4 linked regions of the Homo sapiens genome follow. The protein of the gene in region 3 purifies or fractionates together with the protein of the main gene of each other region. This does not show direct contact. Each region holds a gene or a part of one and is shown on either strand. Other genes may lie near its edges.

Region 1 (3,500 bases), on a different chromosome or scaffold from region 3:
TTCTTGACATTTTTACAACCATCCTTCCTAAGCAGCGGCACAGCCTGGGTGAAAAGTCACTGGAAAAGTGGCTTTTCCGGCGCAGCCAGGGCGAACTGGGGCTTCCTGTGGCCATGGCGCTCAGGATCACCTGCGCTCTGAGCTCTGTGCCGAGAAAGCACGTGTTTCTTACATGCTTTCTCTCTGTGTCCATTGAAGGTGCTCTGGGGAGCTAGCCCTGGTCTGATGCTATTTCTAATGACTAGGGTATCTCTGCCTTGCTTTCTTCTGCTTTCTAAAAGCTTTCAGGCAGCATTTGTCTCTGGCCTTCCTTCAGCTTTATATGAATGGATATCAGCTTGGAGACCGTGTTTCCTCTGTTAGCCCATAGAGGTCCAGAGATGGAGCTAACAGAGCTTCAAGCCTGATTGGATCTCCCCAGCCTATTCATCATTACCAGCAGCTAATATTTTCCAAAGCAGGAAGCAGACATTTCCGCGAGGGTTTGTAAATATCTTCATTGCTTTTGTCTAATTGCAAAAATAATCTGTCACCATGCTCTTTTCAAAAATTTCCCCAAATACCGAAACATGTAATATAAGAAGTGAAGCCTTTTCTGCCATCCCAGCCCCCGTAGACACTTCAGAGGCTCTTTTTCTGTATGTGTTTCCATACCTACGGCACTTTGGTTAGCAGCGTGCATGCCTACAGAGGTGAGGATTCCGAGCTGTTTAGAAGTGTGGCCACAGAGCTGTGGCCACAGCTGGGCTTGAGTCCCATAGGGCTGTTTACCTGCTCAGCCTCCCCTTCTGTAAAGTGTGGGTGATAGTAGGGCTTGATCCTGTGGGCTGCTCTGGAGATCAGCTGTGCTCATGTACAAAGCATTCCTGGGTCCTGGAACTTAATAAATATTCACAACAGGCTGAGTAGACCCTGGAGCTGTGATACATCACCCTACCCGGGAATGATTCCTAGATTTGCTGCTTAGGAACTGTGTGGGCTTGGGCAAGCCACGTACCCTCTCTATGCCTCACTTTCTGCTTTGCATAATGAGGATGATGAGAATCGTACCTACTTCATAGGGTTGTTGTTGATGTTGTGAGAATGAAATGAGCAAATCCATGTAAAGTACCTTACAGCAGTGCCGGCGCGGGTGTTATGTAAGTATCAGGTGTTATTTTTATTCTGTAAATGTAAGGGATTTTGTCATGACTTTTGGTGACATCCTCCTCTCTCCTTGGCACAGGCTGTCTTTTCCTCCGTGTTTTACTTTGCCTCCGTCCCTCTCTATCAAGGATTCCTCATCATTGGGTAAGGAAATCCTGCCAAGGAATTAATTGTTTACAAAACCTTCTTCAAATGCTGCAACAGAGAGAAGAAACGTGGTGGAAAAATTCTTGGGTTCCCAAGCCACATTGGATTCCCAGCCCCAGCGAATGCAGGCCCAGCACCATGGTTTAGAACCTCCTTCAATTAACAAGGTTTTGAGCTGTTAAGCCCTTAACCAGATGGAGGAAGTGGAGTTGGAGATGTGTGTGGTGTGTTGCACTTTGCCATTTGTACCTGGTCTTGAAAAAATACTCCAGAGTTATCAGTTGATTGAGGAGAGCAAGGTGGAAGGTTTGCAGACTTGGTGATTTCACTGGGGTCTTAATAAAAAGGGGTGGGGGATCTGAAAAATGCCCTCCTGGCCTGAACTGAGCCCAGTAGAAGTCCCATCCTTGGAGCTCCAGGGAGGGCCAGAGTCCACTGCCTCGGGGATGTGCAAGTAACAGAGCTTGGCTGCTGTGCCACAGTGACAGAGATGGTGTCACTTGGGCCTTTGCAGCCTGCAAACCCACCCCCATTACTGACCTGGAACTTCAGGATGATCCTTCTGACCTTTTCAGAGAATGTGCTCAGTCTCTGAATCACCCAGGTAGGTGGAGTTTGGTTACCGAGTGCCCTAGATACAGACACATGCAGCTGAGGCCACTTCTGGTTATGAGGAGACGGCGGGTGCGGGAAGGTCAGCTGCGCTCTGGAGAGTCTCACAGAGTCCGCTTTCCATCCTACTGTGTTGGCTGATGAGTTCAGCCTGAGAGGAGGCACTAGAATTCTGCCTGCTTCTAACTGGAAAAGCGGGCTGTCTTTCGTCGGGTTCTGGAAGAGTACAAGAACATTACAGAATATAGTCAGGGGTTCCCTGAGCTGTGCGCCGTGCGACCTTCCGTGGTCTGGTCCCATCTTTCCCGTGGGTCCTCATTTCCTCTTCCGTCGCCCTCAGCCCCAGCCCCACTGGCCTTATGGCTGTTCTTCAGACATGACAGCCACTCCCGCCTCAGTGCCTTTGCACTGGTGGTTCCTTCTCCCTGGAATGCTCTTCCTCCTGGGATTGGCTTGGCTGGCCCTCACCTTTTGTGGGTGTTCACTCAAATGTTCTGTTCCTCAGCCTCTAAAATTGTACCATCACCCCCTACACACACACACACACACACACACACACACACGTCTTATTTCCTCTACCCCATTATATTTTTCTCTTTAGCACTTCTCTAACACACATAGAGTTTACCTAATTTATTTGTTTATTGACTCGCTGACCGGGATGAAAGCTCTTCAGGGCAGACATTTTTGTCCATTTTTGCTCATGGGTTTCTGGTGCTTACAGCCAGCCCCGGAGCATAATAGACAAGCAGTAAATATTTGTTAGAGGCATGGTTGGGACTTGGGTGCCGGAGGCTGGCACAGCACATAGCTCCTATCGCGTCAGCCAGGTCTTACCTATGGCGGTTTTCTCTCCCAGGTACTCCACAATTTACACCATGTTTCCTGTGTTTTCTCTGGTCCTGGACAAAGATGTCAAATCGGAAGTTGCCATGCTGTATCCTGAGCTCTACAAGGATCTTCTCAAGGTTCTGTTAGCTTTTCAGTCCCTCCTTCCTCCTTTCCTCCTTTGCTTTTCCCTTCCTTCCCTCCCTCCCTGCTTTTTTTCTTTGAATTTATTTCACACAGACCCTCCAATTCTGATTTGAACACACTTGAACTGGTAGCTTTTTTACTTTTGGGGGGAAGGTGTGGGAGTTTACATTTTTTCTTAAAGCAGTAATATATTCACTGGTATAAAGAACGTGAAAAAGTACAGTAATAGATAAACTGAAAACAAGCCAACTCACGACTTGCAAAAAGCCCCTGACAGTTCCGCTTTGCAGTTGCAACTTAACGTTTGCTCCCAGAGATGTTCTTGTGTACAGTTCCAAAAAGTGTGTGTGGTGGCGTGTGCCTAGGCAGGTGTATAATTTTATTTGTCTTCAGGGTTTTTTACCCAAGGGAAGGTTTATTCCCATGTAATGTTAATTTTAATGTTAATTCTTTTTTTTTTTTTTTTTGAGACTAATTCTCACTTTGTCACCCACGCTGGAGTGTAGTGGCTCGATCTCGGCTCACTACAACATCCACCTCCTGGGTTCAAGCGATTCTCCTGCTTCAGCCTCCCGAGTAGCTGGGATTACAGGCGTGCACCACCATGCCTGGCTAATTTT
Region 2 (2,541 bases), on a different chromosome or scaffold from region 3:
TGCTGTTAAGACGTGAGTGCATTTCACTTGGAAGAACCCATTGTACAAAGTTCAAGGCTAAGAGTTCTGAATTCTGGCGTCAGCTTCCTCAGGATTTTCTTCAGTTGCAAGTACCTTTCCACTGAAAATATGAGCATGCCCGCCTGGCTAGTAGGCATCTGTAAGAGTGTCGCCAGGCCCGCGCCAGCTGAGGCCTCAGACTAGCCAGGCAAGAGCCGTCTGACCAGTTGGCTGGCGGTGGTTCTGGTGGAGCACGAGGGAGCCCGGGTGGTGCCCTGAGCCTCGAGCTGCTCTCTGTCACTGTCTTGAATCAGACTCAGAAATGGCTTCTTCCCAGCCCTGCCTACAAGTTTTTCTCTGGGGTCCTCTTTCAAGGATGTCCACGGTACCTTCCTCCTGAAACTTGAGGAAGTCTTTTGTCTTCCAGCTGCTCAGGGTTCTCTGGTCCAAGACCCTGCTTTAAAGAGAGTCTTTGGCGTGCTCAGACTCCAGCGCTCCGTTCTTCAAGGAGGTTGACTTGCCTCTCGGGCCCCGTAGGTACCAAGAGACTGTTTACCTCCCAGAATGTTTGGGCTTGAAGTTACATTAAAGTGAAGTTATTTGAAAGAAAGAAAACCTCATCATTTCTAAGGATGACTTAATTACTGTGCCTTTTCCTTTCTTTTTACACATCCTACTGTCCCTTAGGGTAAAATTTTCAGCATTAAATAAAACATTTCAAATATATTGTATATGGCTTTAGTTGTAAACTATACTGCATGCTGACAGAGAAGCGCTCTTTTAGCTAAGCCCAGAACTTCTCTTTTGACAATAAAGTACTGAGCAGTGGTATCATGAGGGCCACCTCCACATTGTCCCCTGCAGAATAAATGCGGATGACAGAAAGCTTATGCTGTCTACCACTGAACAGTGATGGAGATGGTGCTAAGTTTTTACAGTTGTCTTAGCCCCAGTGGTTCTCAAGGTGGGGCTCCTGGCCCAGCAGCAGCAACTTGTTTGTTAGAATGCAGACGCGCAGGCCCCACCTGGCCTCCTGAATCAAAATGGTGTGCGGCAGGGTGCAGCGAGCTGTTTTCACGAGGCCTCCAGGTGACTGGATGTAAGCTTGCTTGAGAACTATGGGTTTTAGCTATTCTGGTGTCTCCCTGATTTTCTACAGCGCCAGGATCCTAGTTTGGTGAGGTTTTAAATTTAATCTTATTTTTATATAAAATGATTGCCAGACGTACTATATTAAGCTTGAAGAAGCAGAAGATCCCTGTTAATGTGTATGGCCCAGGCCAAGAGCTGTCAAATGAAAAACTTTGTGCTGAAGCAGGTTTTTAGTATGTATATCTTTTTGATGGTATGAAGAATTTATTTAGGCTTGACTGTTTTAAAACACCATAATGAATGTATAATTAATTTATGTTAAAGTATTAACCCTTTGTCACAAAGGAATGGTAATGTGATTGGCTGCCTGTTAGCCCATCGACTATTCCCGTCACGGTAGTCCTTACCTCTGTCGGCAGCTCAGAGCCTCCACATTTTTATATTTAATTCTCATGATAAATTAGCCACCATAATCCCATGGAATTAGGTCTTGTTAAAATCTAGTCCGGGCGCAGTGGCTCACGCCTGTAATCCCAGCACTTTGGGAGGCCAAGGCGGGCTGATCACGAGGTCAAGAGATCGAGACCATCCTGGCCAACATGGTGAAACCCTGTCTCTACTAAAAATACAAAAATTAGCTGGGTGTGGTGGTGCATGCCTGTAGTCCCAGCTACTTGGGAGGCTGAGGTAGGAGAATTGCTTGAACCTGGGAGGCGGAGGTTGCGGTGAGCTGAGATCACGCCACTACACTCCAGCCTGGTGACAGAGCAAGACTCCATCTCAAAAAAAATCTAAGCAAACTATCTTTGAGTCAAAAAAAGTTGGATAACTCATCTATATTTGAAATAATGCTGTCTGAATGGCCAACATCCCAAGAATGTATTAAAAACAGCAACCCTGCCTACCGTTTTGATGACCTTTTTCCATATTAAACAAGTTGAGAACAAAAGAGTGTCACCGCTTGCTTCTTACCTCTGGTTCTGAAATCAGATGTCTTCTTGGAGCCACACAGAGCTAGGGGTGAGCCACAGTTCAAACACAGATACAGATTGTCACATGACGTACTTTTGGTACTTTGTATCAACCCAGTTTTTCCTCCAGAAGATTAAAGTTGCTTTGTCTTTTTTTTTTTTTTTTTTTGGGGAAGAGTCTTGTGCTTGTTGCTCAGGCTGGAGTTCAATGGCACAATCTTGGCTCACTGCAACCTCCGCCCCCCCGGATTCAAGCGATTCTCCTGCCTCAGCCTCCCAAGTAGCTGGGATTAACATGCACCCACCACCGCACCCAGCTAATTTTTTTGTATTTTTAGTAGAGACGGGGTTTCACCATGTTGGCCAGGCTGGTTTTGAACTCCTGACCTCAGGTGATTCACCTGCCTCAGCCTCCCAAAGTGCTGGGATTACAGGCGTGAGCCACTGCACCCGACCTAAAGTTGCTTTCTCTTAAGCA
Region 3 (4,590 bases):
GGATAAAACATGTATTACAGCTTGAGCATCCCAAATCGGAAAACCAAAAATCCAAAATGCTCCAAAATCCAAAACCTTTTGAGCGCTGACATGACGCCCAAAGTGTTCACTGGAGCACTTGGGATTTCAAATTTTCAGATTTGGGATGCTGAACTGGTGAGTATAATGCAAATATTCCAAAATCTGAAAAAATCAGAAATTTAAAATGCTTCTGGTCCTAAGCATTTCAGATAAGGGACGCTCCACTTGTACTTCTAGGAGAAGAATGATCTGAGTGACTGCAAATTTCTCATGAGAGACCGTGGAGGGTGGAAGGAAGGGATACATTTTTAAAATGCTGAAAGAAAACAATTATCAACACAGAATTCTACACTCAGAGAAAACAGGCTTCAGGAATGAGTGTGAAATAGTCTTAGATGGAAAAAAAAACTAAGAGAATTTATTTAAAAATAAAAGGAATCCTGCAAAAAAATGGGTTTTTAAAAAAAAGAGAGAAAAGAAAAGCTAGTTAAATTTCTTTAATTAGAAGGGAAAGGGTTCCAGAAGGAAACCTAGAACATCAATAATGAAAAAGAACAGAAGGACAGGAGGCCCTCCAGATCAGAGAGTTCCACATCCTCAGAGTCAACCAACCAGGACAGAAAACATTCAGAAACAACCACAAATAAGAAATAACAGTATAACAACAACAACAACAACAACAAAATAAATAATACAGTATAACAACTATTTTCATAGCATTTACAGTGTATGAGGCATTATAAGTAATCTAGAGATGACTGAAAGTCTGCAGGAGGATGTGTGTAGGTTATATGCAAATATGATGCCATTTCATATAAAGCACTTGGGCAGCCTCTAATTATGGTATCCAAATTATGGAACCACCACTTCTTGGAAACCAAGGGACAACTCCAGAAACGATCTGAACAGAGATCAGTGACAAGACCACCCGTGCATAACCACACCTGTGCATACTAAGTCCTGTGGTTAGCCTTGCGGAACCCACATATACAAAAAGTCAGCCCTCCGTATCTATACACAGGTTCTACATCCCGAGAATACTGTGCTTTCGATCTGTTTTGGGTTGAAAAGAAGCCATGTTATAAGTACACTCACACAGTTCAAACCCATGTTGCTCCAGGGCCAACTGTATAATACTATTCATTTCCTCTTGAGTTTCTTAGAATGTGTTTGATGACAGAAAGTCAAATGTGTTGCACTGTCTGAGGAGTTATCAGTGTACATGTATGCAACATAGAAGAGCATGTCAAGAAGGGGACGGAGGGCAAAAGGCCTAAGTGACAGTAGGGTTTCCACATTCCATCTGAAATATGCAAATACAGATTCTAAGTAGATTGTGAGAAGTTTAATACATACATTGTAACCCCCAGAACAACCACTACAAAAACTACGCAAAGAGAACAGTGTAAAAAAAAAGAAAAAGAAAAATGTAATACTAAAAATGTTCAATTTATTAAAAAGAGGAAGAATAGAAATAAAAATAGAACAAATAAAATGGTATACGTAAATCCAAAATATCAATAATTTTATTAAAGGTAAATGATCTAAACATACCATTAAAAGGCAGATTTTTCAGAACAGAGTTTTAAAAACCCCATCTAACTATAAGATCTGCAAGAAACTCATGTCAAATATAATGATACAGGTAGATTAAAAGTAAAAGGATGCAAAAGATACACCACGCAAACATTAACCAAAACAACGTGGCCAGGAGCGGTGGCTCACGCCTGTAATCCCAACACTTTCGAAGACCGAGGCGGGCGGATTGCTTGAGCTCAGGAGTTCGAGACCAGCCTGGCCAACATGGTGAAACCCCATCTCTACAAAAAATACAAAAATTAGCTGTGTGTGGTGGTGTGCACCCGTAGTCCCAGTTACTTGTGGGGCTGAGGCAGGAGGACTGCTTGAGCCCAGGAGCTCAAGGCTGCAGTGAGCCAAAATCATACCACTGCACTCCAGCCTGGGTGACAAAGTGAGACTGTCTCCGAAAAAAGAAAGAAAGCTGGAGCAGCTCTATGAATATAAGGCAAAGGAATACAGAAGGACATTACGAAAGGATAAAAAGGTCAATTCAGCAAGAAGACATCATCATCCTCAATGTATATGCATCAACAGAGCTGCAAAATACAGGAAGCGAAAATAAACAGAAATGAAAAGAGAAATAGACAAATCTAAAAATCACAGCTGGAGACTTCAACAACCTCTCTCTGAGTAATAGAACAAGTATGCAGAAAAATCGGCAATGACAGAGAAGAACTAATACCATCAACAAATTAAATCTGACATTTATAGAACGATCCACCCACCAAAACCAAAATACACACTCTTTCAGGTATACATGGAATAATTCACCAAGAAAGACCATATCCTGGCTCTAAGATAAACCTTAACAAATTTAAAAGCATTGAAACCATATTAAATATGTTCTCTGCCCATAATGGAATTAGACTAAAATTTAATAACAAAAAGATACAATAAAATCTCCAACTCTTGGAAATTAAACAATATACTTATTAAACTATATTAACCAATTATTAGTAATTATTAATTATAACTAATATATTAAACTATACTTGTTAATCTATGCTCCCAAGAGGAAGTCTTACAAAAAACTTTTTGATCTGAATGAAAACGAAAACTCACACATTAAAATTTGCTGGGTGCAGCTAAAGTAGTACATAAAGGGAAATTTATAGCATTAAATTATTAGAAAAGAAGAGGCCAGGTGCAGTGGCTCACGTCTATAATCCCAGCACTTCGGGAAGCCAAGGCAGGCAGATTCACCTGAGCTCAGGAATTCGAGACCAGCCTGGGCAACATGACGAAACAAAAAATACAAAAATTAGCCAGGCACGGTGGTGGGCGCCTGTGGTCCCAGCTACTTCAGGAGGCTGAGGCAGGAGAATCCCTTGAGCCTGGGAGGTGGAGGCTGCAGTGAGCAGAGATCGCACTACTGCACTACTACAGCCTGGGCGACAGAGCGAGACCCAGTCTCAAAAAAAGAGAAAAGAGGCCAGGCGCGGTAGCTCAGGCCTGTAATCCCAGCACTCTGGGAGGCCGAGGTGGGCAGATCATGAGGTCAAGAGATTGAGACCATCCTGGCCAACATGGTGAAACCTCGTCTCTACTAAAAATACAAAAATTAGCCAAGCGCGGTGGCACACGCCTGTAATCCCAGCTATTGAGGAGGTGGAGGCAGGAGAATTGCTTGAACGCGGGAGGCGGAGGTTGCAGTGAGCCGATATCACGCCACTGCCCTCCAACCTGGCGACAGAGTGAGACGTCTCAAAAAAAAAAAAAAAGGAGAAAAGAAGTAAGGTCTCGAATTCTAAGCTTTTCTAGAAAAAGCAAAATAAATTCAAAGCAAGGAGAAGGAAGGAAATAATAAAGACAAAGCAGAAATCAACGAAAGAGAAAAGAAAAAAAAATCCATGAAAACAAAAGCAATTTTTTGGAAAGATCAACAAATCTACATAATCTCTTCCAAACACTATCAGAGAAGGAAATACTTCCCAACTCATTTTATGAGACCAGCATTAATTACTCTGATAACAAAACCAAAGACAGTGCCAGCAAACAAACAAAACCCAAACCAACCAAAAAAACCTAGGTGGAGCCCTGAATGTTTATTCCTCAAAGCTGGAGAGCAGGAGCCTCTCAGACAGGGTCTCACTCTGCCATCCCGGCTGCAGTGCAGTGACACAATCATAGCTCACTGCACTCTCAAACTCCTGGGTTTAAGCGATCCTCCTGCCTCAGCCTCCTGAGCAGGTGAGACTATAGGTGCGGGCCACCACAACTGGCCAATTTTTTAAAAATCGGTTCTTATTATGCTGCCTAGACCAGTCTCACCTCCTGGCCTTAAGCGATCCTCCTGCCTCAGCTTTCCAAAATGTTAGGATTATGGGAATGAGCTACTGTGCCCAGCCTTCAGTGCTTGTTTACAGTATGACGGATCAGGCTGGAGGGAACCCTGTCGCACTAATTGCAAGTAAGCATCATTACCCGCTACTTTTGTCTCAAGAACACTGTGCACTGAGGAAGGACATCGCAAGTGCTAAAAGTCGAATGCGATGCCAGGCTGCAGATTGTAAAGGTGCATGCAAGAGGTGGCAGGGCTCAGTGGTGAAAAGTTCTGTGCTCGGTCCAGGAGACTTGGGTCAAGCCCTAGCACTGCTACTCACTGGGGCCAGACCCTGTGCAAAGTTTACCTACTCTGAGCCTCAGGGTCCTCTCCATGAAGATGGTGACAACCACCCCCACATGGGGAAGCAAAACAAGACTCAATGTATAATAAAGGTGCTGGCACCCACAGACTGTTCACCAGCCTTTACTACTTTACACGGTAAGTGCTGGTTAAGTATTTGCTGAACTGACAAATAGTAATATAACCAAGAAACAATTGCTGCCCAATCCCATGAACACTCAGTTAAAAGTTTGGAGCCAAGATACTTCAACTGCTTAAAAACTACACAACTTCAAAACCAGCTCATTAAAAAAGAAAGCAGGAGTGGGAGGAAACCCTCAGTCCTCGGCCTGAACGCTTGGTGGCTGTCGCTTCAAGGCATG
Region 4 (2,216 bases), on a different chromosome or scaffold from region 3:
CTATTATTGATCACTTTTACACATTTTTTCACACAAAGGAAATAAATGAAAATACTGTCACTCTTCAAAGGAATACCTTGGGAATCCTTGTTCCATTTTGGTGTCACACTATGATCCCCTATTTCCTTCTCCAAGATGGGAAGAACACCATGAAGAGAACACTGAGAGCATGTACAGCCCAGGCTCAGCTGTGCGTGCTTTCCCTCATACAGGAGAAGCTCAGGGAACTTTCTTTTCAGCCACCAAGACAAGAGTGTTTTACTTAGGGCCCCCTCATTCACACCAGCATTAAATATGGGTGATAAGTTCATTGCTGTCAGCAGCTAATGCCAGGTCCAGTGTTTCTCATAGGTGGCTATGGCAACACGCTCCCCCCTGCCTCCTCGATCCACACAGTCATCCTGGAGGAACAGAGTGCAGCTGGGAAGGTGAACAATGACTGTCAGCATGAACTTTAATATTCATTTAGTTTTTTGATGGGGGGCAAAAACCTGGAGGTGGGGGACAGAGTAATTACTGCCAAATCTTTAATAAGTGTTGGACAACTCATGTAATACAGACAGGCTGATCAGGGAGTGGTGGGTGGGGTAGTTAGAAACTTTCAAAGCAATCAAGGCCTACAGTCTGTTTAAAAACAAACAAACAAAAAAACCCCTTTCATTATACCTGAGCAAATTAAAGAATCATTTCAAAAACAGAATTGTCAGATATCACTACCAGAGAAGTGGCATTTAGACAATCAAATACTAGCATAAATTAGATAACTGGATCATTTTTCAGTCTTAAGAGAAAAACAAATCCAAGACTACCAGAAATCTTTTAAAATGGTGTTTAGCAGCATATAAGTTTTTTAGTTAAGAGACTCAGAAGGGACAGAGTAAATAAATTCAAATCAATACTTAATGATTTCTTAGGACTTCATATGAACAAGCAACTTACTTGTCCTACACATATTTTTGACTGGTTTAAAATCAGACAAGGATAAAATGATCTTTTCCTAACCCCAAATTTAGGAGAACACACAGTTTTGTTAGGCTCAAGCCCACCCACATTAAGCATTAACCAGTTAATGAATATTATTGCTCTCACCCTCCAACTTGGAGAACCCCCCACCCCCGAGGTTTTAGTAGTGCCTTTACCACTTAAAAAGGAAGAAGCAGAAAGGTGGATATAGCAAAATGCCAGCCTCCTTGGGCTGTTTCTCCACATGTATTTGGGAGGCAGCAAATCAATCCCTGCTCATGTCAGTCTTCTACACCCAGCCTTGCAAACCACCCACCAAGAATCTCAGCAGAGCCTTTTATTGACACACAACACACACACACACACACACACACACACACACACAGCCTTGCAAACCACCCACCAAGAATCTCAGCAGAGCCTTTTATTGACACACACACACACACACACACACACACACACACACACACACACACCTGGGCCTATCTCTTTAACAATAAAAGAAAAGAACTCCCTTTAAAGTTCCATTCCAGTGAATGGAATAACTGTGATTATTAGTATTGGTACCCCCTGTACAAATCCAGTTTATTCTTGCTCACCTGCAGAGGGGTACACAGATGACAACTCCATTCAAGATACAGTGAAGACAGCCAAAAACAATAGTTCACATTAAAATAATTTTGTGGAAGTTATAAAACCAAGAGAGAAAAATTGAGACATATGTTTGTTACTTTTAAAAACTACTAAACCTTTAATGTATTTGCTTATATGCTCCATAAAAAGTTAGAAGCAAAATATAGCAATGTCTTCAGCAAGGTTTCTCATATGGGGCCTCAGTATCATTTGTCAAAGTATATCACTAATGTTTTCTGACTGTGGCATCCTATACATTTGTTAATTCAAAGTCATAAAAAGGCCTCAAAAATCCATTTTGATATTCCCATCAGCTTATCATTCATGAGGATCTGAATATTTTCTAACAAACCTATTTTCTAGAACAACTATTCAAAGTGTAATAGGAGAGTTAAAAGATGTGTTACCTGTTTATGTAATGTGTTATGTGAGAGACCCAGAGAGAGAATCTATTTGTTATTTCAGGCAGACTGAAGACCGAGGTTCTGGTACCAGCTCCCCAAGTGCCTGCTCTCTCTTAATCAAGTCTCCCTTGAAGAGATGTCCCATATCTTGAGACTGCAGGAAATATAAAGCTATTATATTAAGTCATCCTGCCTCTACAGTAAACTGGCCCATCA

The links.
Region 1: the proteins of LMTK2 (region 3) and ATP9A purify together in Homo sapiens (affinity purification with mass spectrometry; one large-scale study listed by BioGRID and IntAct). This does not show direct contact.
Region 2: the proteins of LMTK2 (region 3) and TADA2B purify together in Homo sapiens (affinity purification with mass spectrometry; one large-scale study listed by BioGRID and IntAct). This does not show direct contact.
Region 4: the proteins of LMTK2 (region 3) and INVS purify together in Homo sapiens (affinity purification with mass spectrometry; one large-scale study listed by BioGRID and IntAct). This does not show direct contact.

The regions. Positions count from the first base shown.
Region 1 is NC_000020.11:51,607,891-51,611,390, reverse strand, and holds part of ATP9A (probable phospholipid-transporting ATPase IIA), read left to right. Parts: intron 1-1,225; coding exon 1,226-1,290; intron 1,291-2,764; coding exon 2,765-2,873; intron 2,874-3,500. UniProt on the Homo sapiens protein: Plays a role in regulating membrane trafficking of cargo proteins, namely endosome to plasma membrane recycling, probably acting through RAB5 and RAB11 activation. Also involved in endosome to trans-Golgi network retrograde transport.
Region 2 is NC_000004.12:7,055,912-7,058,452, forward strand, and holds the end of TADA2B (transcriptional adapter 2-beta), read left to right. Parts: 3' UTR 1-2,041; downstream 2,042-2,541. UniProt on the Homo sapiens protein: Coactivates PAX5-dependent transcription together with either SMARCA4 or GCN5L2.
Region 3 is NC_000007.14:98,196,931-98,201,520, reverse strand, and holds part of LMTK2 (serine/threonine-protein kinase LMTK2 precursor), read right to left. Parts: intron 1-4,590. UniProt on the Homo sapiens protein: Phosphorylates PPP1C, phosphorylase b and CFTR.
Region 4 is NC_000009.12:100,298,243-100,300,458, forward strand, and holds part of INVS (inversin), read left to right. Parts: intron 1-2,216. UniProt on the Homo sapiens protein: Required for normal renal development and establishment of left-right axis. Probably acts as a molecular switch between different Wnt signaling pathways.